Regions from separate parts of the Homo sapiens genome. Here all the other regions are reported to be linked to region 1. The links are microRNA targets in miRTarBase. Many come from high-throughput screens and were not tested one by one. Region 1 holds a microRNA gene; each other region holds the end of a gene's coding sequence.
Evidence for each region. Region 1 holds the annotated microRNA hsa-miR-30d-5p (UGUAAACAUCCCCGACUGGAAG, at 2,148-2,169, shown strand). A microRNA usually pairs through its seed, bases 2 to 8, with sites in the 3' UTR of a target mRNA and lowers its output. Matches are read on the target gene's strand: a 7mer-m8 pairs with bases 2 to 8, a 7mer-A1 pairs with bases 2 to 7 and ends in A, and an 8mer does both.

Region 2: the mRNA of CPEB4 is a reported target of hsa-miR-30d-5p. Seed matches in the 3' UTR shown: 8mer at 3,434-3,441 and 7mer-A1 at 3,286-3,292.
Region 3: miRTarBase lists MED29 as a target of hsa-miR-30d-5p. Seed matches in the 3' UTR shown: 8mer at 3,409-3,416.
Region 4: the mRNA of AZIN2 is a reported target of hsa-miR-30d-5p. The part of its 3' UTR that is shown has no 7-base or 8-base seed match.

The regions. Positions count from the first base shown.
Region 1 is chr8:134,799,925-134,807,087 of GRCh38, reverse strand. It overlaps MIR30D (microRNA 30d), which reads left to right and starts at 2,143; the gene lies at 2,143-2,212. MIR30B (microRNA 30b) reads left to right here and starts at 6,481; the gene lies at 6,481-6,568. It also overlaps a transcript of ZFAT not described here.
Region 2 is chr5:173,955,429-173,962,428 of GRCh38, reverse strand. It overlaps CPEB4 (cytoplasmic polyadenylation element binding protein 4), which reads right to left. Exons shown (of 10, transcript NM_030627.4): 10 at 449-6,519. The coding sequence ends at 6,292. Among named protein-coding and RNA genes, the nearest start is that of C5orf47, 30 kb to the left of the region's middle.
Region 3 is chr19:39,396,649-39,403,811 of GRCh38, reverse strand. MED29 (mediator complex subunit 29) reads right to left here. Exons shown (of 4, transcript NM_017592.4): 4 at 3,171-6,355. The coding sequence ends at 6,113. Among named protein-coding and RNA genes, the nearest start is that of ZFP36, 6.6 kb to the left of the region's middle. RefSeq lists enhancers at 2-509, 1,770-1,989, 5,442-5,491.
Region 4 is chr1:33,119,270-33,126,432 of GRCh38, reverse strand. It overlaps AZIN2 (antizyme inhibitor 2), which reads right to left. Exons shown (of 12, transcript NM_052998.4): 12 at 2,941-6,389. The coding sequence ends at 6,251. Among named protein-coding and RNA genes, the nearest start is that of AZIN2, 42 kb to the right of the region's middle.

The sequences.
Region 1 (7,163 bases):
TCTGTACAGCAGATTGTATGTATGCATGTGTGTTTTGCCCATTTTTATAAAAATGTGTTAAAAGTAAAATGCTAATGCTGATAGAAAATTGACCCGCAAATATGTAATGTTTTTGACAAAGATGGAAATCATAAAGCATGCCAAAAATGGTAAACCTTTAGCTTCAGCTATCCCCTCATTAGACTTTACCTTCTTACTGTGTATTATTACAAAGATTGTGTCTAGAAGATACTTTATAATGATAGAAGGTATTTTATAATAGGGTTTCTTATCACATATACTTAATATTCAACTTCTGTACATTTAATTTTCATGTTTCCTCAAGAATATATTATACAAAGTCATAGCATTTGACAAAATTCCTTCATAACTCTGAAGAAAATATTCTATGTATTGTTTGTGTGAGTTAAATACAGTGGCTCTGATAAAAATGTCTTTTGATCAGTCTTTAAAAAAATTAAACTGAGGACAGGAAGGTAAATTAAAGGGGAGATTTGGAGACTTGTGGTAACTGGTTTATTGCAACTTAATGTGCAGCATCCTCATTAGTCAAGTATCATGTGCCTACCTAGGCATGAAATAGCTATTTTTTTCCTGATTTAAATCTGGAAAGTTTCAGTTGTAGTACAGTTTGAATAGTTGTTGTTGTAAATAGCCACTGGACTTTTTAAAAAAGTATTTTTCTTCAAAAACAGTGAAGGTCATCTTGTATCCATAGAGACCACATGTACTTTCCTCATTATTTCCAGCATTATTTATATAATGGGTAGAGTTATTTACAACATTAAACAAAAAGTATTTCAGAGAGCAACCGTTAAATATTATCACAGGGTAAATATCAGCAACTGAAATCCTTTTCTCATAGTTTCTCAAAAAATTTGGTATTAGGAAATTAATAGTCTCTCAGAATTTGTATATTGGTTTTCTTCAGTAGTTATTCTGTAGAGTGTGTGTGTACATATGCATGCTCATGTATGTATGTATGTTCATTTCTTAAATCATTTCATAAATCACTGTGACTTAATTGTGGACTTTAATTGTTTTCATAGTTTTTTTCCCCAAAAGAAGGTTACTTTACATATTTTATTTTATTTTTATTTTTATTTTTTTTGAGACAGGGTCTCACTCTGTCGCCCAGGCTGCAGTGCAGTGGCATGAGCTCAGCTCACTGCAGCCTCCACCTCCCAAGCTCAGGGATCCTCTTACCTCAGCCTCCCGAATAGCTGGGACCGCATGCACCACCACACCCAGCTAATATGTTGTATGTTTTTAGAGGTAGGGTTTTGCCACTTAGCCCAAGGCTGGTCTTGAACTCCGGGACTCAAGCGATCTACCCATCCACCTGCCTCGGCCTCCCAAAGTGCTGTGATTATAGACATGAGCCACTGTGCCTGGCAATTTTACATATTTTAAATTAAAGCAAATCTTGGTTTTTGATGGAATGCAGATTTACTTATATTTCACTTAGTCTTTTTCCTTTCTTTCAGAAAAGTGGTGTGGAAACAAAATGGTTTTAGTATATTGCCTTATAAACAAATTTAAGATCATGAGTTTCTTTTATTATCCTCTTTGTTTTGCTCATTTCCTTGAACTGTACATCCCTAACCTAAATCAGCTGGAGACAGGGGAAGAAAGTGTTAGATTCTTACTCAGTTTAGATCCTCTGCCAGGAAAACCCACTCTATTCATTGTCAACTAAATTAACGCTTTTTTAAATAAAAGGAGTCATTTTTAACAATAACGTCAGGGCAGCAGGCATCCATGAAATGTATGGTCACTGATCATTAGGGTTATCATTCTAATGTGTTTACTATTTTGAAACTCTAGGGAGAAGAAAACTTATTTTTGCATATGTTGGAAAAATGTATCCTCATGTAGGATATCAGGGTAATATCTTTAATGTTTCATACTTACCAAGATAAATTTGTAATGCGTATTTTCTTTTAAAATTAGATTTATTTAGGAGAAATTGCACTTGGTGAACCACTTTCTCTTTAATTATTAGCATTAACTTTATCATTTTTGTTTCAAGATGTCACAGCTATTGTTCAGCACTAGAAATTATATAAATTATTAGCTGAAGATGATGACTGGCAACATTTATGTCTGTTCCTCCTCTTAAATTTCTTGTTCAGAAAGTCTGTTGTTGTAAACATCCCCGACTGGAAGCTGTAAGACACAGCTAAGCTTTCAGTCAGATGTTTGCTGCTACCGGCTATTCACAGACATCCTCTTGATATAATTCTGTCCCGGAGTGGAGTTGAGGAGGCTATAAAATGTGTGGGAAAACCTCAGAAATCTTTAGCTGCATTCTTTTACTGCACTGACAGTGCACGTATTATGATAGTTGAATGTAGGGTGCTCTCCTAATAACAGGATATGCCGTCTCGAGCTTCCCAGACTTAGCGTGCTGCTGCTGGGCCTTAGAGAATTTAGTTAAATAAAAAGTGTCACCGCCTATTCCTGTTTCTGCCCTGTCAATGAAATTTTAGTCTTTATAACCTTTCCAAGTAGGCTGGAGTTTAACATCCCAACAATTCAGGAGACTGATTTTCTCCATTGTAAATTCTGTGGAAGTTCTGGAGAATAATTTCATCACTACCACCCAGCAGTATGCAATCTAGAAATTTCAGCTTTCCCTATACTTAAAAGAGATGTGTGTGCAACATTTTTCTCCGTCCTCTTAGCCCCCCACTTCCTGTTCCCCTCACCCTGAGTGATATTACAGCTCCTAATCAGAACTCTCCTCTAAGAAAAACTGCAAGACGTCAAGCCACTAAGCCTGTTTACATTTGCTAATGGGTATGCATGTCTTTTTATATTAATATTTTTCCTAAGTATTTTCAGATTGTTGCTTTCAGATTTATTGCTTCCTCCTTAAAATATAGCTGCCCTGAAAGCAGCTGTATTGTATCTATTTTTTGTGTTTCCCCACAGATCTGAATAATCCAGGGCTTTTCTCACAGATGACACTCAGTGTGGACTAATTGATAATGTATAATTTTATAGCAACTATTTTCTGAGTTTTAAAAAATTGTTATTTTATTTCTGTTAGTCTTTCAGACACTGGAAAACATTTCTATTTTATTGGCATTTTTCTTTTCAATAAAGCATTGGTTTTTTTAAATCATTTATTTTTATTAAACTGCTAAACATACTATGTTAGGTTCCATACATGATTAAACCACCAAAAGATAAAGGTCTTGCCAATCTAATGTATTTACATGCTTATTTTCTTTGATTAGATTATAAGCTTTCTGAGGTCAGAGACATTAAATCTTGATAATTCTATTTTTTCCTGTTATAAACAGCAAGTAAAGCACCTTGCATGTATAGTACTTTAGTAATGATTTTATATTATCTTATTGCAGCAGTGTCTACTGTTGCCTCTTATCTTTTATCCAGATGAGCAAATGACAGTTTTGGTCATAATGTAGTTACCCCAGATGTATTTGTGCTACAGCTTTTATTTTTTAAATGCTCTTTTGTTAGAGTAGTAGTTTATAAGACTTATTTGGGGATGGGGGTCAGTTGCTTCAGACTCAGGTGGCTTTCCAACTTGTAAATACAATTTTCAGGCTGGATGATTAGCATGCATCAAGCATCCCTTCCTATGAACTCTAAATAAAGCAGATTTATTGCATATTCTGTGGCCCTCTGTTTTAGCACATTGGAAACCTTAGACTCAAATAGCAGTGAAAGGATAGTTATTGCTGAGCTCAGAAGTCTTCCCTGCCAAAGGTAGAATGTAATGTGTTCTGTGGTAATAGGATTATTTTGTTTGACCAGGTGACACTGTTTATTTCTTATGAAAAATTTTGATATACTGCTTTAAAATTTAGTAAGATGGATGCATAATTTATGCAGTGAAATTTGAAAGGTTTTTCAAAATGATAAGGCCAAACCTAAGCTAAATGAGGGGGTAGGCATTCTTTATAATAAAGCTGTTATACTCTGCCCAGCTAGGCCAGTTATCCCTAGATGCTACAGATTAATGGGGCAATCTGTGTTATGTAACATTTGTTCTATATTATTCTGCCTCTAATGAGGTGAATCAAAGACGATGTCAGTTTTAATTCTGGATGCCCTTGCTTCAGTATAGTATAATACATAGGTACAGCCTTTTTTAGTAGTTTTCAGATGGCTTCTTTATGTTTTTATATTGAAGAACCACTAACTTCCCATTGGCCTATAAGGTTAGCAATTGATTATTTATAGCAAATGGCTTGAAATGTTAGATCATCAGTATTTGTCAATAAGCCTGTAATAACTTGTTTCCCTAGCCCTTAACTTAGTGTTGAAGAAAAAAATTGTGGTATTCATTGATAGGACTTAGAAAGCACAGAAATTACTTATTATTTAAGATTTGTTCTACCAATTGATATTTAAAGTAAAACATTTTTAGTTACTGAACACCATTCTGTAAATGACAGTATTTTATCCTGAGTATATGGTCTGAAATGACTTAGGGACAACTTTTTAAAGCAAATAACTAATTACAAAATTGGGTCTTCCAATTTATTTCAAATTAGATGCTTTTGTACAAATATTCTTGGTTAGAAATAGTCATATAAATACACTGTTGGACTTGTTCTCATTGATCTCCACACCTCAGTTCCTTCTACATGAGTCATGGGCTTGAGGTTACCCAGAAATGGACTGTGAACCTATAAACCCCAGCATGCATGTGGTATTGCGTCGAGCATGTTCTGTGATTCCCTTCTACTCTTGTTACAGCTTTATTCATTGGATCAATGTGCATTATTTGCTGTGTGTGCTCAGGTAATATTTTTGTTTCTTTTTTTTAGTTTGAATATCAGTTTGGGCTTAGTTACTTTTTAAAATAAGGCTGTTTCAGATAGTCTCTGCCACACTTTGCCTAGCCTGGTTAATTGTGGGTGGACCCATGCTACATGTTTTGGCATTGCCTTTTTCTTATCTGTACCATATTACAAACTTCCTAGTAATTTGACATTCACTGCTGTCTTTGCTTTAGCTTTCCAACAGGTTTGGTGAAACAGTCCATTGCTGTTCAATATCAGCTTGCATCAGAATTACTTGGAGGGCTTATTGATTAAAACACAGATTGCTGGGCCCTGCAAAAAAAGTTTCTGATTCAGTAGGTCTGGGGTGGAACATAAGAATGTGCTTTTCCCCCCACAGTTCCCAAGTACTGCTGATGCTGCTCCTCTAGGCCCATGCTTTCAGAATCACAGAGCTCATCTTACATTCTTTTCCTGCTAGATATTATGCCCAATTAATACATGAAGTAAAACAGAAAAATCCTTAACTTAAAAACATGTATTAATCCAGAAGTTTGATTATAAAAAGGTTTGTTGAAAATGTGAGACCATTTTTTCTCCCAGAGAAAAAGTATATTAATTGTCTAGCTGGGAGGGGCCTATTTGAATGTGTTTTCAGAGAAAAGCAGAAGAAAAAAATACGGTTGTAATAGAAGTAGTTAAAACAGAAAAGCAGTATGGTTGTAGAGTGGGGTGGCGGGGAGGTATATGTGTATTTAATCTTGAGAACCAATGCTTTTGGAAAACAGCCCGAAGGGACAAGAGACTAGGTAGAGACTGGCGAGGTTCCTGAAAGTCCTGGGTTACCTGTGAAATGCCAAAGATTTTTAAAGTTTGCTGGCAGTGGTTATTATATGTAGTTTTACTTCCAAATTTGAAGATTTCCTCTTCTTTGATGCAAGTGTGTTGGTAGGACCACTGATAATAGTTAGTGGAGATATTTGTGGGAATATATTTTTAATCAGAAAGAATGCAAAAAGAGGGGGAGACATTTCTTTGAGACACCTTAATGACACTGGGAACAGTAGAAGGTGGAAAGAGATCAGAGTGTGGGAAAGATGTGCCTGAGATGAAATTATCTGAATTCTGAATGTGGGGGAGAAGATGAGGAGAGGGTTGAGGGGGAGGAGAGATGACTAAGCTCCTCACAGTGTTTCATTAACTGTCTTTTACCTAAAGGAGGAATCTTCTTAATGAAGATTGGTTGATGCATCATACTGGTCATCAAGTAAGTTCTTATAAATGCAAGTTTGATTGTTTTGAAGGGAAGGATATAGGAAGGCTGGATAATCAGCTACATTTAGATATGGAACACTACAGGATGTCGGCATTTATTGTTGTAAATTCCTTTGGTGAAAAACGTTATCACTTGTTTGTGACTAGCCTGGGCAATATAGTGAGACCTTGTCTCTAAAAAAAATTTTATTAATAAGAAAAATTAGCCGGGCATAGTAGCGTGCCTGTAGTGCCCCCCACTGCCCTGGACACGCCCCCACTTCCAAAAAAACAAACACCCAACTCACTTCTGCCTTTTCCTTGGATTCTACACTTTCTCTCAGGATATCTTTCCGATTGAGTCTTGCCTCATTTATGTGAATGCTGTGCCTGTTCTTTTTTTCAACAGAGTCTTACGTAAAGAACCGTACAAACTTAGTAAAGAGTTTAAGTCCTGCTTTAAACCAAGTTTCAGTTCATGTAAACATCCTACACTCAGCTGTAATACATGGATTGGCTGGGAGGTGGATGTTTACTTCAGCTGACTTGGAATGTCAACCAATTAACATTGATAAAAGATTTGGCAAGAATAGTATACAGAGGCTTGAATTTTTAATGTAATTAATGTAATTAAAGGTTTGTTGGAAATGTGAGACCATTTTGTTCTCCCAGAGAAAAAGTGTGTTAATTGTCTAGCTGGCAGGGATCTACTTGAATATGTTTGCAGAGAAAAGCAGAAGAAAGCATGGTTGCAGTAGGAGTAGTTAAAACAGAAAAACAGTATGCTTATAGAGGAAAAATTACTCTAAATTTATTAAAATTCCTTTAAATTTGTTACTCAATTTAAATTTTTATTGTATCTTTTCAATTTTGCTATAGCACTAACATGACATAAGGCTCTGGGTATTGGGACAAAAGAATGCCCTTGTTTGGTAGTTGGGGTCGGGTTTGTAGTATTGCAGTGTGCTTTAACAAGCATGGGCTTTGACATCAGACATTTGTTGCCATCTGGACTCCACAAGTGAATTTGCTACGGGATTTGGAGGAGGGAAAGGCACTGTTTCCATACCTCAGTGGTTTTCTCATCTGTAAAATAAGTATGTGATTGCATGGATTGACTTACATGATGAATATAAAGTTGTTCAT
Region 2 (7,000 bases), not on the chromosome of region 1:
CAACAAAGTAAATAGGTTTCTGGCTGGGCACGGTGGCTCACGCCTGTAATCCCAGCACTTTGGGAGGCCAAGGCGGGCGGATCACCTGAGGTCAGGAGTTCGAGACCAGCCTGACCAACATGGAGAAACCCCATCTCTACTAAAAATACAAAATTAGTTGGGCATGGTGGTGCATGCCTGTAATCCCAGCTACTTTGGAGGCTGAGGTAGGAGAATGGCTTGAACACGGGAGGCAGGGGTTGCAGTGAGCTGAGAGCACACCATTGCACTCACTCCAGCCTGGGCAACAAGAGCAAAACTCCATCTCAAAAAAATAAATAAATAAAATAAAATAAAATAAAATAAAATAAAAAAGATTTCTTCATTGTAGAATTTCTTGAAGTCTTAATAAGCTAATGTGCAAATGTGCATTATTTTGACTTTGCAAGAAACAAGGTGACCCATTTTCTAAGTGTATTTAATGGTAAAACTTTATTTTTTTTTGTCTTTTTCTTGTGGAAAGGACTATCCTAGTCCTCTGAAGATCACAGTCTGAAATATTAGAGTTTTGTCTTGTTTATTATTCGGTTATTACACATTTCAGAAAATAATTACTCCTTAAAAATTTCTAACTCACTGACACCTTCAGTATTCTTCAATTTTTAAAATCAGAGATTACTTTCCCCATGACTTTTGATCAAACTATTTCCCAAACTTAAAAAAAAAAAAAAATCCCTAGAAAAAGTACTTACTTTCTGATCTAGCTGTGGACACAAACACCCATTACCAAAAGGGGTTATGAAATGACTTGATTGTTAAGAGTGTGGTAGAGAATTTCCACTGTTTATTCATCTGGTTAGACAGTAAAAACAAAAGATAAAAATAAAAAGAATTTTCCTCGTTGGGTAGGTTTAGGCAATCAGTGAATGAAGAAATATAGCCCAGGAAGCCTCTTACACCCTTTCCAGACACACCATTCTGTGATTTAAAACACCCAAAGCAATGCACCTATGTAATTTCAAGATAGAGTTGTTATATCACATATCATTGATATCTCACTTACCTGAAATAAACATTTCCTAAAATAAACTAAATATGCTTGGGCTATCTTTTTTTTCTTTTCTTAAAATAGTGAAACCATCCCAGAATGCCTAGGAATATTATAGACTTGATAACCAAATGCCACCCACATCTCCAGTGTCCCATCCCTGGGGTTTCCTCAAGGCCCTTCATTGAATGCTCAACGTAAGGTTTGGGAATTGCCAGATGAGAGAAAGGGGAAGCTGTCCAGCCTGCCCTTACCCTCAGTAATCTCTATAGTTAGAAGAGCTGCCTGTTGGGAAAGACAACTTAGACGCAAAAGATCTCATAGTCCATTTCTCTCAGGACAAGAACCTCTTCTAGTCTTGAGAATACTATACTCAAGAAAGAACAGATATTAAATCTGACAAAACAGGATATTCTCAGTGTTATATTTTGTTATAATAAATCCTTATGTTAAAAGTTTGAGAATGCAGTTTAAAATATAAATACTAACACATTACAGCACTTGGTAGTCCACATGATTAATGGATCAAATCAAAGATAATATTTTCAATTGACATGCCATAGAGATTATAATCCCACACACCGTATCCTATGACATTAAGGTCTATGGAGGAACTGGGAATTGGAAGTCAAAAGAGACTTGTTTTCAAGCCCTTTGGTAGTGTGGCCACAAATCAAGACTATTCATTGACAAAGACTCAAAACTGAACCTCCCAGATACGGACTTTCATTATTAACTAAACATTGGGTTTTTCACTTTTGTTGGGCATTTGGCCTTCAACTGATAACTGAATGCTTAGATCCTGGGCTTACTCCCTGTATACATATTGAAGGCTACAAATAAAAAGAACTCTGCAGGGCAGGCAGCAGGTGAACTAACAGTACAGGCCAAAGACACAACCACCCACCGACGCTTATAGGCTTACATAAGAATGCACACTGGCCACAGTACTTATATGACTGAAGATTTTTTCCTATTGGTTTGTGCTGCATTAGCTGAACAGTATATTCCTAATATTTTAAAATGTTACATTCCCAGTCAAGAAAGCATCATCTACTTGTGTTAAAAAGAAATAAGTATATTAAAAGAAATCTGAGTTAAAAGTTTTATTCATTCAACATCTCACATTACAAATATTTAAAAATTATATGCATACTGGTATAAATAGTCATTTGCAAACTATTTAATAACATTAATTTTTCACTAGCACTTCAACAAATGAACTCTTTTAAAAAAGGAACTGTGTTATATAACTTAAGAGTAGAACATACAAAAATAGGAACTTAACGTGAAAATGACTTTAATAAAAAATGAATTACCCTTATTTAAAATGCTATAATAAATACTACAACCTCCCCATACACAGTAAAAACTATATGGAAATTCAGCCAAGTAGTACAATTAACTGACATACTTAAATAACTTTTCCTTCTGATAATATGAGCAATACACTGGAAAAAAAATTAGGGATTAGTAAAAACTAGACACCCACTTGCTAAAAGTTTCACTTCCAAAAAATATAACAAAAATCTGATGAAAATTATAAAAACTAATTATACTTTAAATTTTAAAAATATAAAAAATAAAACAGTTGAATACAATATTGTCCCGATTCTTACAATGCTATCAATCACAGTAGCTTTAAAATAATAAAATAAAGCAAATGACCAAAACCTCTTTTATTCCATTTTTAAAAATAATCTCAAATTTACATTAGTAGAAAGATTGATTTCTGATTCTTTTCTTTAGAAACACCAGCAAGAAAGAGGATTACTCTTAACAGTAGAAAATGACATTTTTAAATGTCTGCAATTAAAAACAAAGAATTACACTGCAAAGATCTTTCAAAAGTTTGAAATAAGTATTGCACATAACTTGAAGTTAACTTGCCACAATTCATCACATTCAAGTTTTAAATCACCTTTTAACAGAAGATTCAACTCTTCAAAACAAAAGGGGTGAATTATCAAGTCTTTCCAACAGCACTCTCATAAAATGCTAAATTCATTCACTGCAAGTTTTATTTTGCATTCTGCAGAGGTCTGTGTATGGAGAAGTATATATATTATACCAAAGCGCAGGGACCAGAAGGGGAAAGGAGAGGGTTCCTTTACATAGAAAATAATCAGAAACACTTTATTTTACATTGCAAAAATCACCATGTAATTACTCTGTAACTACATTGTAAGTACATGGCTGGCGCCATGCTAGTGCGCTAGAACTACATGCTTGGTGAATTGAAGTGATGCCCTACAATCTGTAAACTAATTACATGTTAATTATGTTTGAGTTACATGGTAACTCCCAACTACAATCCCATGTAATCTGAAGAACATGTAATCATAAAGTTCAGAGTAATAGATAATCATTGTTTATGCCCTGTAAATTGAAGTGTAACCAATAATCTGTAAACACACTTGTCACACAATCACAAGTAAATATTAGTAGAATAACAATTTCTTACATTAGTCATGCACACTAACATTACACACCTGTCCCAAGGCAGGCTATTTTTTTTCCTTATATATAATTTAAAAGAGCAGACATCTCTGAATCAAACACTTAACATCAATTTATTAATATTAAAAATGGCTAAACATTCACCAAAAATGTCTGCATTTTATGAATAATTTTAAAAACTTAGTAAGAAGCTGTAGACAATTTTGTTATTTTAATTTCTACCTTATGCTTATGCATTTAATTTTTTTTTTAGGAACTACAGTGTTATCTGTCATTTTCATGCGAATTTTTTTCATTAATTTGTGACTTTACATAGACTATTTCTTAAATTATAGGTACACCAATAGCTGGTGCTGGGGAAGGATGTTTAAGCAACATGCTTTCTCTTCTCTGCAGACTCTAAAATAGCATTGCCAGTGCACGACATTCATAATTTAAAATGTATGCAGAGCACTGAAATGTATAAAAAGCAGAATATAAGAAAATAAAATTTATTAAAATTATTTATATTAAAAAATGAAGTATATGAAGATCTCTCAGTAATAAAAGTACAAAAAGCTACTCTTTGCAATATGAAAAATTGAGGTATTGCATAAAGAGATATCCCGTCAGTGAAAAGTGTGCCTAAAAATGTTCACTGTTGGAAAAACAAGATATACAAAAGTAGTGCATAACAAATATACATTATGTGCATGACAAAATAAGTTAGCTACAAAAACACTGTACCGAAATTCAGCAGGTCATGTACAAAGGGAAAAATTATTATTCAAAGCTAGTTCTCAAACAGTGTTATTTCTTGTTAACTCATCACACCTGTTTACTGAGTAGGAACAGCACGATAGCACACCCCAAGCCACCTACAAGCATTTAAAAGAGTAAAAAGAGGCAAATGAACATTCCAATTAGAATCATGTAGTTCAGGAGAAAAGAAAAAAAAGTCCCTGACCAGCTACACAAGAGCACCCTCCATTCGCATGACTGCTTTCAGTATTTGCAGGGAATTCTTTAAAAGCAGCTCCCTTTCTATGTTTGAATATTAGACAGCAAATGCCTCCATTTTGACCTTTGGAACTTAACAGGTATAGTTCATTAAAGCCTGTATTAAAAGTAAAGGGCTGCTTTTCCTAAAGATCATCCATAGGGGTCATAAGCCAGGTGGTTCCACAGCAGTGCTGGGGCAAGTCTTTGGTTTTGAAGGATCCAAGATGGTACTGTTAGGTAGCGCAACTAGCAAGATTGCCATTCGATCATATTATTTCATGTTTTGCCCACTGATAATAAACCTTTTAATGATGGATAGGGCATTTAATAAGAGAATGTCAATTAAAATAAAAGTTACTTCCATGACTAGGGCTTCAAGAGACTATTTTAAATTTACCCCTGAAGCATACTGTTCAACACATAACGCCTTTCAAAGCTAGAATTTTATTTATAATAAAGCATGCATTACTTGATGAAGTTGGCACTTCAAACACTGACTATGTCCCATGCTAAATTCGGAAACTGTAATGTTATTTTAGTTTATAGGAAGAGTAAGATAAACATACGTACCTTTGCACAGATTTACACAGTTACTTAGTTCAACAGTGCAAAACACTTTGCAACTACTTCACTTTTTTTAACTGTTTTTTCATTTTCTATGTTACAACTAAATTACAGGATACCCAAAGTAACTTTAAATCTAAAAGTAAGCCAATCAGCAGCCAAATTATATATTGGTTTTGTCTTCCAGTTTTGGCTACAAGTGTACTGTAACACAAAATCAAAAATGATATCCTTGAGGTATCTCTAGATCTGTTGTTGTTTTTTAACGTCAAAATGGAGAGCAAAGGCTGACATCTGATGAGTATTAGTAAATTAGGATATAGAGTTTATATATAAACATCAAAAATAACATTTATACATTTATTCTTCAGGAGAGGAAATGCTAGGTTTCCCACCAGTTGTCATTAATTCTAGCTTTGGTAGGTTTCCTGGGGCTTTGACCAGATAAGTAAGTTAAATAAATAAGTGCACTCCCCTCAGTAGTAAATTTACCCAATTTTTACATTCTGAATTTTAAAAATTGTTTAAGAGAAAATAAACCTAGCTCTGCCTACTTTACTATTTTTTTTTTATTTTTTCTGATGTGGTGGTAACTTTTTGAGGGATAATGAAATTATGTTCAGCCTCAAAACCCTGAAAATTAATTATAATGCTGCTCAGTCTTGCTTATGCATTTGTTTGCTCTAACATGCTCTTTCCATTAAAAATTGTTAACTTCCTCCATTGCTGTTAAAAAAATTAAAAAGGGATGGAAAAAAGAGAGAGACAAAAAAGATGAAAAAAAAAAAAAAAAGAAAGGAAAAGGCAAAAGCACTTCCCTGGGGGAAAAACTGTCAGATAGACCGATAGTGTTATTGTTGCATGGTTATTTTAATAAAAGTATTCTTATATGTTATATTATTAACAATAATTTAATTAAAAACCCAAAATACTCTATTGTTTCATTTCTCTTTTAATATTTCTCTCTCTCCTCTAAGAAAATGTTGCAGGAAGTTTGGATCCTCTTGGTTTCCAGCAAAACAAGAGAATAAAACTTCCATGCAACCCGATGGCAATACGAAAAAGGAGTTCATATTGTTTGCAGTGACACAAGAATCTACAAAACACCTATATTATAGGTCATTCTTTTCATTATACTATAGTTAAGTTACAGACTGCTACAAAAGGACATGCCAGCGTGAAGAGGTTGAGGAAGGGGTCAGAATGAACAGAAGAGTGCACTTATTCTGAGGCCTGAAAATGAGCACTGCAGTTATCCTTTAGTTCCAGCGGAATGAAATATGCCGAGGGCGGTCACCGCCTTCCTTCACCAGGGGCTTGTGGAATTCCCTGCCAGCACGAGAATGGATAGCAGCCCAGCAATATTCACAGTAATACTGCAGACAGGTAACATTAGCACAGAAAAATGGAGCAAATTTCCCCCCACAACGGGCCCCCTGACATTCATCACACAGCTGATCATCCAAGACATATGGCTTAACTTCCACCTGCAATCAAAAATAAGAGTTTACATTTTTCAGTGACTAGGCCAGCAATGCTTACCATACATGTACATTTCCACCCACTATCTGAATGAATCTGTTCCAAGGTGCCCAAAGAGGAAGGACTAATTATTCATTTACTGAAATATGGATAGTTCATCTTTTAAGAACCTAGTAAGGCTTTTATTATCTATCATTTTACATTTTTTTCTTATTAAATAAACATCCTTTAAAGGAAAAAGGATTTGAGCAGACATCATGAAGTGAAGCCAACTGTTTAGACTAGAATGTTATGAGATTAAACCCACAGGAGATTATTCATAGACATAAACCCTCATTTTAATTAGTGGATCTGGATTTTTGTCATATGTGGAATCATAATTTAAACAAAATCAACTAAGATGATCCAAGTTCCACACAACTGCACTTCAATATTCAAGTTGGTGTGAAGATGCCTGACTACTGCGTCACAAGATTCTGAGCTGTC
Region 3 (7,163 bases), not on the chromosome of region 1:
TCCAAATCCTTACGCAGCTTAAAGGATTGAGGCGGGGAAAGGGGGGTTGGGGGCATCCTTGGGTTCGCGGAGCCCGGCTCAGCTCGGGCTGCGATCAATCCTGGAGGAGGGATTCCAGTTTCTACTCCCTGGAGACCGGGAGCATTTCCCATCCCTGAGTCAGGCTGTCCCCCTCCTCTCTCCCATCTGCTGAGTCATCGGCCCCAAGAGTCAGGACTTTTGGGATAGGGCCACTCTCAAAGGAGGGGGATGCTTTGCTCGCAGAAGGACTGGTCCTCCACCTCCCCAAACCCACAGACCTGGGGGACCCAGGAGCCAAGGCCTCAGTCCCTCCTCCCTCGCAGTAACCCAGGGCCCTGGGTCCCCAGCCCCTCCTCCCTCAGACCCAGGACTCCAGGCCCCCAGCACCCCCCTCCCTCGGATCCAGGGGTCCAGGCCCCCAGCCCCTCCTCCCTCGGAACCAGGGGTCCAGGCCCCCAGCTCCTCCTCCCTCAGATCCAGGGGTCCAGGCCCCTAACTCCTCCTCCTTCAGACCCGGGAGACTCCCAACCCCCCCTCCCTCAGACCCAGGGGTCCAGGCCTCCAGCCCCTCCTCCCTCAGATCCTCAGGTCCCCCGAGACCCCAGCCCCTCCTCCCTCAGACCCAGGGGTCCAGGCCCCCATCTCCTCCTCCCTCAGATCCAGCGGTTCAGGCCCCTAACTCCTCCTCCCTCAGACCCGGGAGACCCCCAGCCTGTCCTCGATCAGATCCAGGAGACCAGGCCCTCAGCCCTCCCCTCAGATCTCGGGCGTCCCAGGCCAGAAGGAAGTTCATGGCAGGACTCCTCCCTGCTCCCTACGTAGCCAGCGGGAAAATCCGCGGCCCCAGCGGCGGCCGGGAATCCCCTCTGGAATGACGGTGGGGAAGGGGATGGCCGGGGTCCCCCCGCGGGGCGCTGGGGCCAGTCCTGGGCGGGCGGGGAAAGAAGGAAAGGGGCGGAAACCAGAGAGGCTAAAAATACAGCCAACACTTCCGGCCTAGGGGGAGGGGAGGGGAGAGCAGAGTTTCCAGAAAAACAAGCGGGGACGGGAAACGCGGGGGTGTGAGAGCTGGCCGAGTGCGCGGGCGAGCTGGGGATCGTGTACCCGCGGCACGTGTGCTCGCGCCGTGTGTGCGCCTGGCGCGATTGCCTGGGCCTGAGCGGGCGTGGCCAAGGGCGGCGCTGGCCGTGTGTACCCTGGCCTGCGACTGCGTGGGCGGCGGGCCTGGGCTAGCCGTCATGTGTACCCGGTTGTGTGAACAGTATGTGTGCTTGCGGGTGCAAAGGTGTGCGCCTTGGCATCTGGGGCTGCGAGAGCCTGTGTGCCTGGGTATGCAGTGGGGGAACGTGAGGGACACGAGTGTGCCCAGTTTCCTGTGAGAAGGCTGTGTGCATACAATCCCGCATGACTTGGCTGTGTGAATCAATGTGTGAAACCGCCTGTGTGATCGACTGTACCGTGTGTACTTTGGCCATCTCTGGGTGTGGGGTGGATGCTCTGTTGTAACTGTACTGCAATTTGTCTCTGAGGCGGCATTCTTAAGAACATGAGATTTTCATCCCCACCTGCATATCTGTGCGTAGCTCTGAGCCACTGTGGGATCTGCAGTGACTAAGTGTGTGTAACTCCGCGCAGGTGCCTGGGTGAGGGAATGACTGCCCTCCCCTGTGACTGAGGCTGTGTGCACACACAACTTTGTGTGTGTGTGTTGCTTTGAGACAGGGTCTCGCTCTGTTGCCCAGGCTGGAGTGCAGCCTCGACCTCCCAGGCTGAATCGATCCTTCCACTTCAGCCTCCCAGGTAGTTGGGACTAAAGGCACGTGCCACCACACCCGGCACACACATTTGAAGCTGTGTCAGCATCTGTGACTCTGCAGCTGTGGCCGTGTGCAAGGCCTTTGTGGCTCAGTGTGTGTAGTCCCTGGGTGTGTGAAGTGTTCACATATGTCCACGTCCTTTGTCGTGGGTGTCTGAGACTGCATGTGCAGACCACAGCAGGCCGGCGTCTGAATGCAGTTCCTGTGGCCCGAGTCACAAGGCAGAGAAACCGATGAACTTTGGTTTCTGACGTCTACAGCCTGCGTGATGGGGAGAGTAGCTGGCGAGCTCCCCCCTCCATGTCACTGTTCTTGTGTCGGCCTCTGTGGGCAGAGCAGACGTGCAGACATGAGTACCTGAGAAGCTGGGGCAGCGCCGATGAGGCTGCTTCTGATAGTGCTGGGCTAAGGACAGGGCTGAGTCAGCCTGTGATGGGCAAAGTCTGCGATGGGGTGAGAGATAGCTTATCTGGTAAAGTGGTGGTTAGAGGGTTGTTTGTGTATTCATGTGGCTGGGTTGCTCCCTGAAAGTATGTTTGTGGGACTGTCAATGGGATGGGGTCCCTGGGGGCACCATGATTGTAGGATGGTGGGTTAGCTCTGCAGTGGGGCAGACATGCTGTGTGCTGGAGTCCCCACGGTCTGTTTTGTGGTGGCTGTGCACCTCACGTACACCCCGTCCCTGGAGCATGCAGTGTGCACCAGACTGTGTAGTCTCCCTCTGGGTTTAGTTACCTAGCAAACCCAAGTCCTCACCAAGGCCCTCTGTGACCTGTCTGGATTTCCTCTCCTATCCCTGCTCCCTCATTGTGCCCAAGCCTCCTTTTTATGTGTTCCATAAATCCCAGCACATTCCTGTCCCAGGTCCCTGGCACTTGCAGTTCCCTCTGTCTGGAGCACTCTTGCCTGGATGTGTGGATGTCCCCAAGCTCATTCCCTCTCCTTCGGGGCTGCTCTAATATCGCCTTCTCAGTGAGGCCTTCCTTGACCTCTGTCAAGGATTAAAACAAAAATTAAAAGGCCCACTGCAGTGGCTCGTGCCTGTGCCTGTAATCCCAGCACTTTGGGAGACCGAGGCGGGCAGATCACTTGAGGTCAGAAGCTCAAGACCAGCCTGGCCAACATGGTGAAACCCCGTCTCTACTAAAAATACAAAAATTAGCCAGGTGTGGTGATGCACGCCTGTAATCCCAGCTAGTTGGGAGGCTGAGGCAGCAGAATCACGTGAACCCAGGAGGCGGAGGTTGCAGTGAGCCGAGATGGCGTCACTGCACTCCAGCCTGGGCGACAGAGTGAGACTGGTCTCAAACATATATAAACAAGAATAAGAAAACCCTTGTCATCTATTTAATAATAAATACATGGAACATATATAAACCATAATGAATGCTCACGAAACCACAATCCAACTTAAGTTCTCAAACTTTTAATGTTTTTCAATAAAGTAACACGATTCTCCATATGCAGATGTTACATTTCATGTGTTAGATTTGCTAAGTATGATTTAATTATACATTTCCATTTTTTGATCTTCAACTTAATTACACTTAAAAAATGAGTATTTTGCTGGTGTAAACACCTCCACTTCTTTTTTTAAAAAAACAGGGTCTCCATGAACCAAGCTGGAGTGCAGTGGTGCGATCACAGCTCACTGCAGCTTCAACCTCTCAAGCTCAAGGCATCCTCCCACCTCTCAGCCTCCGAGTACCTGGGAACCTGGGCACGCACCACCACACCTGGCTAATTTTTGAATTTTTTGCAGATAAGGGCTTTTGCTATGTTGCTCGGACTGGTCTTGAATTCCTGGGCTCAAGCCATCTGCCTGCCTGCACCTCCCAAAGTGATGGGATTACAGGCCTGGGCCACTGTGCCTGGCCCCAACATCTCCACTTCTGATCTCATTTTTCTGTTTTCTCACCATCTGATATATTTTACTTTTGTCACATTTACTGTCTCTCACTAGAACATCAGCTCCACAAATACAGGCCTTGGGCACAAGATACCCAATGTGTTTGCTGAGTGCAACTCAGTGGTGCCCACCTCCGCCCTGTGCCTGATAGATGTGTATCCATCACCCCACCACCCACTGAGTGCCTCTGTGGGCTCCCTGGGTGTGGTTTTAAGCATTGGTAGGCCCTGTATCATGGGTGCTGGGCTATCAGGCCCCCCCACCTGTGTGTGATGTTGTGTTGACACCACCTGGGAGGGCCGACAGTCCCTCAGTCTTGTGTGTGCGCTCATGGACCGACATCTCCACCACTGCTGGTGGGCTCTGTTGGGGAAAGGGTTAGTTGTCTTCAGTTGTATGCAAGATAACTGCATCATGTTGGGTGGGACTATGACTATGTTATCGTACTTATTTGGAGATTAAGTGTGGTTAAGGAGATGTGTGAGGGTGCCCAGATGACAAGGACTAGATGGTCAGTTTTTTATTTTTTTTGAGACAGAGTCTTGCCCTGTCGCCCAGGCTGGAGTGCAATAGTGTGATCTTGGCTCACTGCAACCTCTGCCTCCCAGGTTCAAACGATTCTCCTGCCTCAGCCTCCCGAGTAGCTGGGACTACAGGTGTGTGCCACCACACCCGGCTAATTTTTTGTATTTTTAGTAGAGTCGGGGTTTCACCGTGTTGGCCAGGCTGGTCTCGAACTCCTGACCTTGTGATCCGCCCGCCTCGGGCTCCCAAAGTGTTGGGATTACAGGCGTGAGCCACCGCCCCCGGCCCGATGGTCAGTTTTATGTGTCAACTTGGACGGGCTACAGTCCCAGTTATTCAAACACTCATCTAGCTGTCGCCATGGAAGTGTTTTGTAGATGTGATTAAAGTCCATAATCAGTTGACTTTAGATAAGGGAGATTATCCTACAAAATCGGGGGATTGGGTAAAAAACTGATTCAATTAGATAAATGGGCAAAACTGAGGCTCCCCTGAAGGAGAAATTCCTCCTAGGGACAGCGCTTCAGCCTTCCTTCTTGCCCTACATGCTCGGGCACTTCAAGGAAGAATAAGGGGAGGAATTTCCTGGGACACACAGCTGGCCATTTCCCAGTTTTCCAGTGTGGGGACTTGGGCTCAGCGTGAATCACAGAGGTATCCATGGTCCTAGGGTTTCCTTGCAGACGTGGGGTCCAGGACAGGAGGCCATGGAGTGCGAATGTGGGAACCATGGCACAGAAGATACTGGGTGGGGCAGTTCTCCAACCAGGCTGAGTCACTTGAGGCTTTCACACCCCAACATCTGAGCCTGGGCTGGTAGCTCCGCCCTGCACTTGCTCAGGCCTGAAGGCTGAGGCTGAGCTTCCTGAAGCTTCCAGGGAAGCAGGGAGTCTGAGGGGGCACTCCCTCCTTGAAGCCCCCTCCCCAGTGCCTGCTTCCCGGAGCTGGGGCTCAGGCGCCTGGGTTCTTCCCCAGGACTGATGATTCACCCCGGCTGGGGCCTTTTCACTTCTCCTTTGGGGCTAAAAATACTGGGACCCAGGCATCCAGCTGGGCCAGCCTTGCCACAAATTGCACAACGCCCCTCACTCAAGTTCCGCTGACGCAGGCTTGGGTGGGGGCCTGAGTTGCTCCCTGCTCAGACCTGTGGAGCTCAGAGCCTGGGCCCCTCCACTGCTCCTCTCCTAGGCCAAGGACCCTGGGGTCTGGGCTGACATGCGAGCCGCTGGGGGACTCTGGGCTTGGCTGTGGCCCCTGGAAATGAAGTCCCTTCCCTTAGCCCCAGATAACCCAGGGGTGCTGGCCCCCTGCATAGACACAGAGTCCCAGTTAGGAGCTGGGGATAGAAGACAGCTAAAGGGGACTAAGAGAGAGAGGTCAGAGTGAGAGAAATAGGACCATGGGGAGAAACACATTAACAGGAACAGAGAAACAAGGGAAAAAGAGACAGGATGAGAGAGACACAACTGTAATAGAGACACAGAGGAGTGGCACACAGAGACCACCTCCCAGCTGGAGACAGTCAGGAAGGACTGAGGGAGAGGGGACAGCCAGGGCTCCACACCCAGGCAAGAATGGGGGAGGGCCTGTGGAACAGAGAAGTCATCAACACACACAGTTCAAAGTCTACCCTAGGCTAGGAGGGGGAGCAGGAAGAAGGGGCAGGGACGCAGGGGCCCGGCCTGCGAGCTCCCTGTTGGCCTCTGCTGCCCCCTGCTGGCTCCCGCTGCGGTGCTCAGGCAGGAAGAGAGGAGGCTGCTGTGTTTAGGCCCAGGACGCTCTTCATTCCCTTTGCACACCACCCACCAACCACTGCCTGCCCCACTCCCTGTCCCCCACTTCACAGAGTGCCCCCAGGGCCAGCAGGTGGTGCGGGTGTCTTGCCCGTGACCTTGTTGGCACAGTCCAGCAGGGCGGTGTGAATGTCCTTGGCACAGGAAATCTGGGCTTTGATGACCGCCAGGTACTGTGGGTAGGGGAGGCTGTCAGGCTGCACTGCGTCGGGCTTGGTGGCTGTGGGCACCAACGTTGGAGAGTGCTTGGCACTGTCACAACTCTGTGACAGGCACTCATGCGCCAGGCGCTGTGGACAGGCAGGCAAGGGGACAGCATCAGCTCCACCCGAGGTCATTCTACCCCACCCCAAGGGCCAGCTGGGGGTTGTCGGCTTGGCCTCTGGATTTCCCAGGTCTTAGAGTCAGAGGTTGGCCCTGCCAGTCATTTGCTGGGGAACCTGGGGGCATGGCGGCTACTCTTCTCTGAGCCTCAGTTTCCTCCTTTGGAAAACGGGTTTAATAACCACCTCTTCCTACCTCATAAGGTGAGAACAGTGAGAGCAGGTGTATGAGACACAGGCACGGGTCCTGGCACACTGTTTAAAGTGCCAAGAACTGTTAGCTACTATCATTGTTACTGCCCTGGCTCCAGGCCTGGTGTTGGCAGTGGCATCTCACCCCTGGTTTTCTGCCTGCTTCTCTGGCTGCTCTAGGTACTACTTTCTTTTTTTTTTTTGAGATGGAGTTTCGGTTTTGTTGCCCAGGCTGGAGTGCAATGGCACGATCTCAGCTCACTGCAACCTCCGCCTCCCAGGTTCAAGTGATTCTCCTGCCTCAGCCTCCCGAGTAGCTGGGATTACAGGCACCCGCCACCACACCCGGCTAATTTTTTTTTTATTTTTAGTAGAGACAAGGTTTCACCACATTGGCCATGCTGGTCTCAAACTCATGACCTCAGGTGACCGACCCGCCTCAGCCTCCCAAAGTGCTGGAATTACAGGCATGAGCCACCGCGCCCAGGCTTTTTTTTTTTTCTTTTGAGGTGGAATCTCGCTCTGTTGCCCAGGCTGGAGTGCAGTAGCACGATCTTGGCTCACTGCAACCTCTGCCTCCTGG
Region 4 (7,163 bases), not on the chromosome of region 1:
AAACACTCCCTGTCTTTATGGAATCAATAGGATTAGATACGCAGGAAGACAAGTATTTAGAGAGGAAAACTACAGTACATTGTGATCAGTAGTTCTTTAATAGGGACAAATACAGGATGCATGAAAGCCCGGAGATGGAACCCCTAATGAAGGAATAGAAAGTAAGAGAAAGGAGAGAGACACCCAAGCTGAGGCCTGAAAGATTCATTCCTTCATTCAGTAATTTCTTGAACATCTACATGAAGGACAGTATTCTAGGCACTGTGGACCCAGCAGTGAACAAAATAAACAAATCTTTGCCCTCAGAACTTAATTCTAAGTGAAATGTATAATATGTTAGACAGTGATCTATGGAGGAAAAAGTAAGGCTCTGAAGGGGATTATAGAATGCTGGGGCAGGAATGGAAATGTTACAGTTTTTTTGTTTGTTTGATTTAGAGATGGCATCTCACTATGTTGCCCAGGCTGGCCTCAAATTCCTGGGCTCAAGTGATCCTCCTGCCTCAGCCTCCCAAAGTGCTGGGATTACAAGAATGAGCCGTCACTCCCAGCCTGAAGTGGGTAGTCAGGAAGTTCTCACTGAGAACATTACATTTGAGCAAAGACCTGAAGGGATGAGGGAGAGAGATCTATGCAGAGATTTGGGGTTGTAAGTGTGTCTGGCATGTTACAGGAAAGGAAAGGAAAGGAAAGGAAAGGGCGTGTGATGAACAAGATTCCAATATGATAGCTTTCTAAGGGATTTTCAATGATAATTTTGACCATATGATTCTTGCCTTAAATATGGTCTTTAGAGCCTCATCCCTGTAAAATATGACCACATAAGTTGGTGGGGGCTACTTTGAACAGGATGTTTGGAAAAGGCCTTCTTGAGATGGCAACATTCAAGCCGAGGCCTTTAAGATGAGAATGAGCCAATGCTGGAGTAGCTAAGGGAACAGCAAAGGCGAAGACTTGGAGGCAAGAAAGAAGTCAGTAAATGTGAGAAACTGAAATGTGAGAAAAGAGTGGCATGAGATGAGGTGGGAGAGGTGGGCAGGGGTCTCAGGCAATTTAGCTTTTTTTGGCATCGCAGCGGAAATCAACTGAAGGGCTTTCAGCAGAGGACTGACAATCAGATCATTTTACTGGTTGAATTTACACAGGCTTAGCTGTTTACCTAAAGGTGCCAGGAAGAGGGTTTAAAATGGAGCAAAGGGATGAGTGGAACCCCTGTCCTCTTGCCTCCCCTTTGTTCCCTTTACAGCTGGAATGAGATGGCTTGGGCAGGTGGGTTTCCTAGGTGAGAGATGACTCCCACCCAGAGAGCCACCATCTCCCTCTGAGCTGGGGTGAACAGAGTTGACAACTTGCGTCTCTCTGACCTCCTCAAAGTTTCCTGGTTGGATCCCATTACTGGGTATATACCCAAAGGATTATAAATCATGCTGCTATAAAGATGCATGCACACGTATGTTTATTGTGGCACTGTTCACAATAGCAAAGACTTGGAACCAACCCAAATGTCCATCAATGATAGACTGGATTAAGAAAATGTGGCACATATACACCATGGAATACTATGCAGCCATAAAAAAGGATGAGTTCCTGTCCTTTGTAGGGACATGGATGAAACTGGAAACCATCATTCTGAGCAAACTATCACAAGAACAAAAAACCAAATACTGCATGTTCTCACTCATAGGTGGGAATTGAACAATGAGAGCACTTGGACACAGGTTGGGGAACACCACACACCGAGGCCTGTCGTGGGGTTGGGGGACGGGGGAGGGATAGCATTAGAAGATATACCTAATGTAAATGATGAGTTAATGGGTGCAGCACACCAACATGGCACATGTATACATATGTAACAAACCTGCACGTTGTGCACATGTACCCTAGAACTTAAAGTATAATAAAAAAAAAAGTTTCCTGACTGGGTCTGCCTTTCAGACTGTGGGCAGAGGTGAAGGAAGTACATGCCACTACCAGCCCTGAAGGTCTCCTCCCTCCACCCCTTTTGAGTATACTTTTTTTTCTTTTTTTTATTTTGAATACACTTTCAATTAATCTTCCCAAAGATCCTGACGTGCTTCTTCTGCTCCAGAAGCATAGCGGGCTCCCTACTGCCTACAGAATTAAGTTCAAACTCCTGGCTTTGTAATTCAAGGTCCTCTGTGACCATGCTGCACTGTGAGCTCCCTGAGAACTCAGAGGAGTGCTAAGTCCTGGACTAAGTACTTTATACCCATTTTCTTTTTTTATTTTTTATTGTTTATTTTTTTGAGATGGAGTCTTGCCCTGTCGCCTAGGCTGGAGTGCAATGGCAGGATCTCGGCTCAATGCAACCTCCGCCTCCCAGGTTCAAGTGATTCTCCTGTCTCAGCCTCACAAGTAGCTGGGATTAGAGGTGCACGCCACCATGCCTGGCTAATTTTTTGTATCTTTTTTTTTTGAGATGGAGTCTCACACTGTCATCCGGGCTGGAGTGTAGTGGTGTGATCTCAGCTCACTACAACCTCCACCTTCCAGTTCAAGTGATTCTCCTGCCTCAGCCTCCCAAGTAGCCAGGATTACAGGTGCCGCCACCACACCCAGCTAATTTTTTGTATTTTTAGTAGAGACGGGGTTTCACTGTTTTGGCCAGGCTGGTCTCAAACTCCTGACCTCGTGATCCGCCTGCCTTGGCCTCCCAAAGTACTAGAATTATAGGCGTAAGCCACCGCTCCTTGCCAATTTTTTGTATCTTTAGTAGAGATGGAGTTTCACCATGTTGGCCAGGGTGGTCTCAAACTCCTGACCTCGTGATCCACCAGCCTTGGCCTCCCGAAGTGCTAGGATTACAGGCATGAGCCACCACAGCTGGCCTTATACCCATTTTCTTATTTAATCTTCACAATAACCCTCTGAGGGAAATAAAGTTATCAGCCACATTGTACAAATGAGTAAACAGATTCAGACAGGTTAAGAGCATGTTTATTCAGACAGATTCAGACATGTTTATTCATTTGCCCATCCAGCATATACTTTTTGAACACCTACTCCGTTCTAGGTAATAAGGACACAGCAGTGAAAAAATAAATCAGGTTTATTCCAAGAGCCTAGAGCTCACATTCTAGAAGGGCTGACAGTTGCCCTTGTGTTATGGAACACATTATGGAGTTATGTTATAGAGTATGTTGAGTGGTGGTAGGTACTATGAAGAAAAAGAAAACTAGTTAAGAGAAAAGAGAGAGACTAGGACATGCTATTTTCTAAAGGGTGATCCAGAAGGCTTCACCTAAAGAAAACATTTGCACAGAACCTGAATGAAGTGAGTGAGGCCCACAGATAACCCAGGAAGATCATTCTAGAGAGGGGACAGTAAATGCATGCCCAGCAGTGGAGTGTTTGAAGAACAGAGGGGAGGCCAGTGTGGCCAGGACCCAGTGCGTGAGAGGGAAGTGTGGGAGTCAGAGAGCCAGCTGGCCAAGGACTTTAAATTTCATTCTTGGTGAAACGGAATCCCAGGAGGTACGGCATCTGGCTGCTGAGTGGAGGATGGACTGTGGAGGGGAAAGGGGAAGAAGGGGCCAGTCCTGAGTATGAGAAGATGGAAGCTCAGATCTGTTAACTCCTTGAAGGAGAGAATGAGAGAGAGTGAGTGTGCGCGCAGGAGGGGCTTCAGGAGGCACAGGTGGGTTGTAGGGAGGCATTGGGAAGAGGATGTTCCTCAGGTGATGCCCCAGGGAAGGATGGGTCTGTGATAGGCCAACAGGAACATCTGACTTCCAAGGCAGCCAGGAGGCATGAGGAGCCACTGCCAGTGGGTCGCTCAGCAGGGAGCTTGGAGGAGGCAGTGCCCATGCAGCCAGGGGTCCAGGAGACCCCTGCTTAGATTCGCCTGCACAAGCCTGAAGCCCCTTACCATTCTCCACATTTCAGGCTTTTTTCTTCTCTTTAGAAAAAGATTGAAATAAGAAACAAAAACAAATAACTGGGAAAAAATGACTATTAACTATTATCCTCAAGTAAGCCACATCAAGTTCTGCGTGTATCTTTCTTGGAAAAGTAAATTTCACATCCTTGCTGCAAATGGAACATGAAACACTAGAAAGGCTCCAGTGAGAAATCCATCCAAACTCCATGACAGCCACTGTCATTTCAAAAGCCACAGAATGCCCCCTCAGTGGACTTGCTCAGAAGAGGGAATCAGCTACACCTGGGTCTCACTGTAGCCAGCCATGAGATCTTCCCAGGATTCCTGCGCTTTTCACAGCAGATGCCTGGTTCCAGCAGAAAACCTATGTCCCTCTCCGCAAAAGAAGTATGAGTGCTTGGAGATCTGAGATGGAAGAAGTCTCAGAGTCTGATAGACAATTACTGGCATGGTAATACCTGTAAATCGTGGCTTTGATGGATCACGGGGTAGTAGAGTAACCCTTTCTGATTGCCCTGAGTCTTTTGATGTCCCAAGCTTTCAGCCTATTTATTGTCAAGATACCGAAAACTAGATCCCACCTGGAAAAGGGAGACACCCCTGGCTTTGAGAAAGCACCTCGTTCACTCCAAACCCATGCCACATTGCCTCATGAGATGACCTCAAAGCCACGTACAGTTCCCACCAGGACTGGCTGAGATACTGAAGCAGGATGGTCAGGCTTACCTAGAGAGAAGCTCAAGTGAAGATAGAAAATCCATCACAATACAATGTCCAGAATAAGCAAATCCATAGAGATGGAAGGTAGATTTGTGTCATCAGGGACTGGGGAATGGGAAAAATGGAGAGTGACTGCTAATGGGTATGGGATTTCTTTCTAGGGTGATGGTTACACAACTCTGAATACACCAGAAACCACTAACTTCTCCACTTTATTTATTTATTTCTTTATTTGAGGCAGGGTCTCGCTCAGTCGCCCAGGCTGGAGTGCAGTGGTGCAATCTCGGCTCACTGCAACCTCGGCTCACTGCGACCTCCACCTCCCTGTTCAAGTGATTCTCCTGCCTCAGCCTCCTGAGTAGCTGGAATTACAGGCACATACCACCACACCTGGCTAATTTTTGTATTTTTAGTAGAGACGGGGTTTTGCCATGTTGGCCAGGCTGGTCTCGAACTCCTGACCTCAGGTGATCACCTGCCTCAGCCTCCCAAAGTGCTGGGATTACAGGTGTGAGCCACTGCACCCAGGCTTCTGCATTTAAAAGGGTGAATTTGATGATTGCATATGAATTACATCTCAAATCTTTTAATTGCAGCAGAAAAATATTTAGAGTCCCCTGCAGCCACTGAGGGGGACTCTAAAATCTGAACTCCTTTGCTCAACAGCTCACACACCCCGGGGCATAATTTGGGAACCCGGCAGTGTGAAGGAGCCTTTGTCCTGATAAGCACTGCCAGTCTCAGGGGATGCCAGGGCTGTCGGCACTGGACACAGCAATACTCCGTGGCCAGCCCTGTTCTAACAGGCACTGCCCAAAGAAGCAAAAGCGACCACCAGGTGTCTGCTTTACTCTGACTGCCTTGCCAACCTGCAGGGAGAGCAAGGGTGCAGGGTCCACTCAAAACCTCCCACACACCCATTTCTTGGCTCTGTATCTTCAGTATGAATTTCCACAGCTGTGTTAAATACTCCATTGCCCCTACTCTGGGCCAGGCCTTAAGCTGGGTGTTGGGCTGACCCAAAGGCCATTCACCAGTTATGAGCTACGTAACTGCCCATCTCAGTCCCTGACAGCAGCCCCTTCCTTATGGCACCAGGCCTGGAGGCCCATGAGGAGGAGAGAGATGAGTCAGATAAGGTGAGTACTAGTGGGGGAGGCACACGCTGCAGCCAGGGCTCAGGACTAAAGCAGAGGGTGTGGGCTCATCAGTGAGTGATGGGGAAATCCTGCCCCAGGCCTAGCCCAGGCTGCTTTGTGAATCAAACTGCCAGATTCCGCTGCAGTTTTTAAAAACCTAAATATTTATTTATTTGCATTATATTTACAAAGGTGGGAAGGAGACCAAAGGAGACCCCAAGAACACCCCCACACCTGGCTGACCAGGCCCCTTGCACTGCAGAGGAGGCAGACACAGCTGGAAGGAACAGGATTTATGTTGCATACTTGAACTACAGCGAGTGTAAGACTGGTCCTATTTACAGGGCAGAAACACTGCAGGTGGAGCGCGGGGGTGGCAGGGTGGGCACCAGAGTCCTGGCCAAGGGTACCCTTGCCTGCCATCTTCCCCACCTCTCCCAGATGCATCTCTGAGGCCCCGCTGGGATTCTCCGGGGGGAACGAGGCCCACTCACATGATGCTCGCTGGGGTGAAGACAGGGCCCACGCACAGGGTGTCTGTGATCTCCCAGCCGCAGGACAGAGGCTTGCACACACCCTCCACGTCATCCTCCTGTTCTGCAGCCATCAGCTGCCTTCGCAGCGCTTCCCTAGGGGTGAGAGAGGGGTGCTGCAAGTAGCCAGCATGGGACTGGCAGGGCCCTGTACCTGGAGACGCAGCCCCATTGGGCAGAGGGCTCTCACGTGAGCCCGAGCTCAGCTGAGGGCAGGGGCAGGGACAGGCTGCTGACCCCTCCCCAACTGCTTCCTACTCCCGTGTGGTCCCCACCCCTCAACAAGGGAAAGAAATCCACATGTATCGAGCATTTACTACATGCCAGACATCATGCCAGGCACTTATATTATCTATTTGTATCTTCCCAAAAACCCCATGAGGGAGGCATTACCATCCCCGTTGCATTGATGATGTAATCAATCAGTTCCCCAGAGAGAGAAGTGACCTACCTAAGATCACATCCCTAGTAGGTAGTAGAACTAGGACTGAACCCAACTCTCACTCGAAAGCCCACATTCATCATACCCCAGGCTTGGGACTTCAAATAAAATCATATCCCATTCTCTCAAACAATCCCACAAACTGCTTCTCCTCCTACATACCCATGTTGATCAATGGCTCCACTATCAGAGTTGTAAACAGTTGGCAATCTTGTTCCCACACCCAGTTGAGCCCTGCTGAGCCCAGCTTCTGAACATCCTCATGTGCCCCATGGTCTCCATCCCCATGGGTAACACCATTTCAGTCTCCCTGATCTGCTCGTGCCCTCTCCAGACAGTTCTCAGCCAGGACCCAGATTCATCTTTCCAAAAAACAAATCCCTGCCCTTGAGCTGCCAGCCATTTCCCTCTGCTCTCAGGCCCTGCAA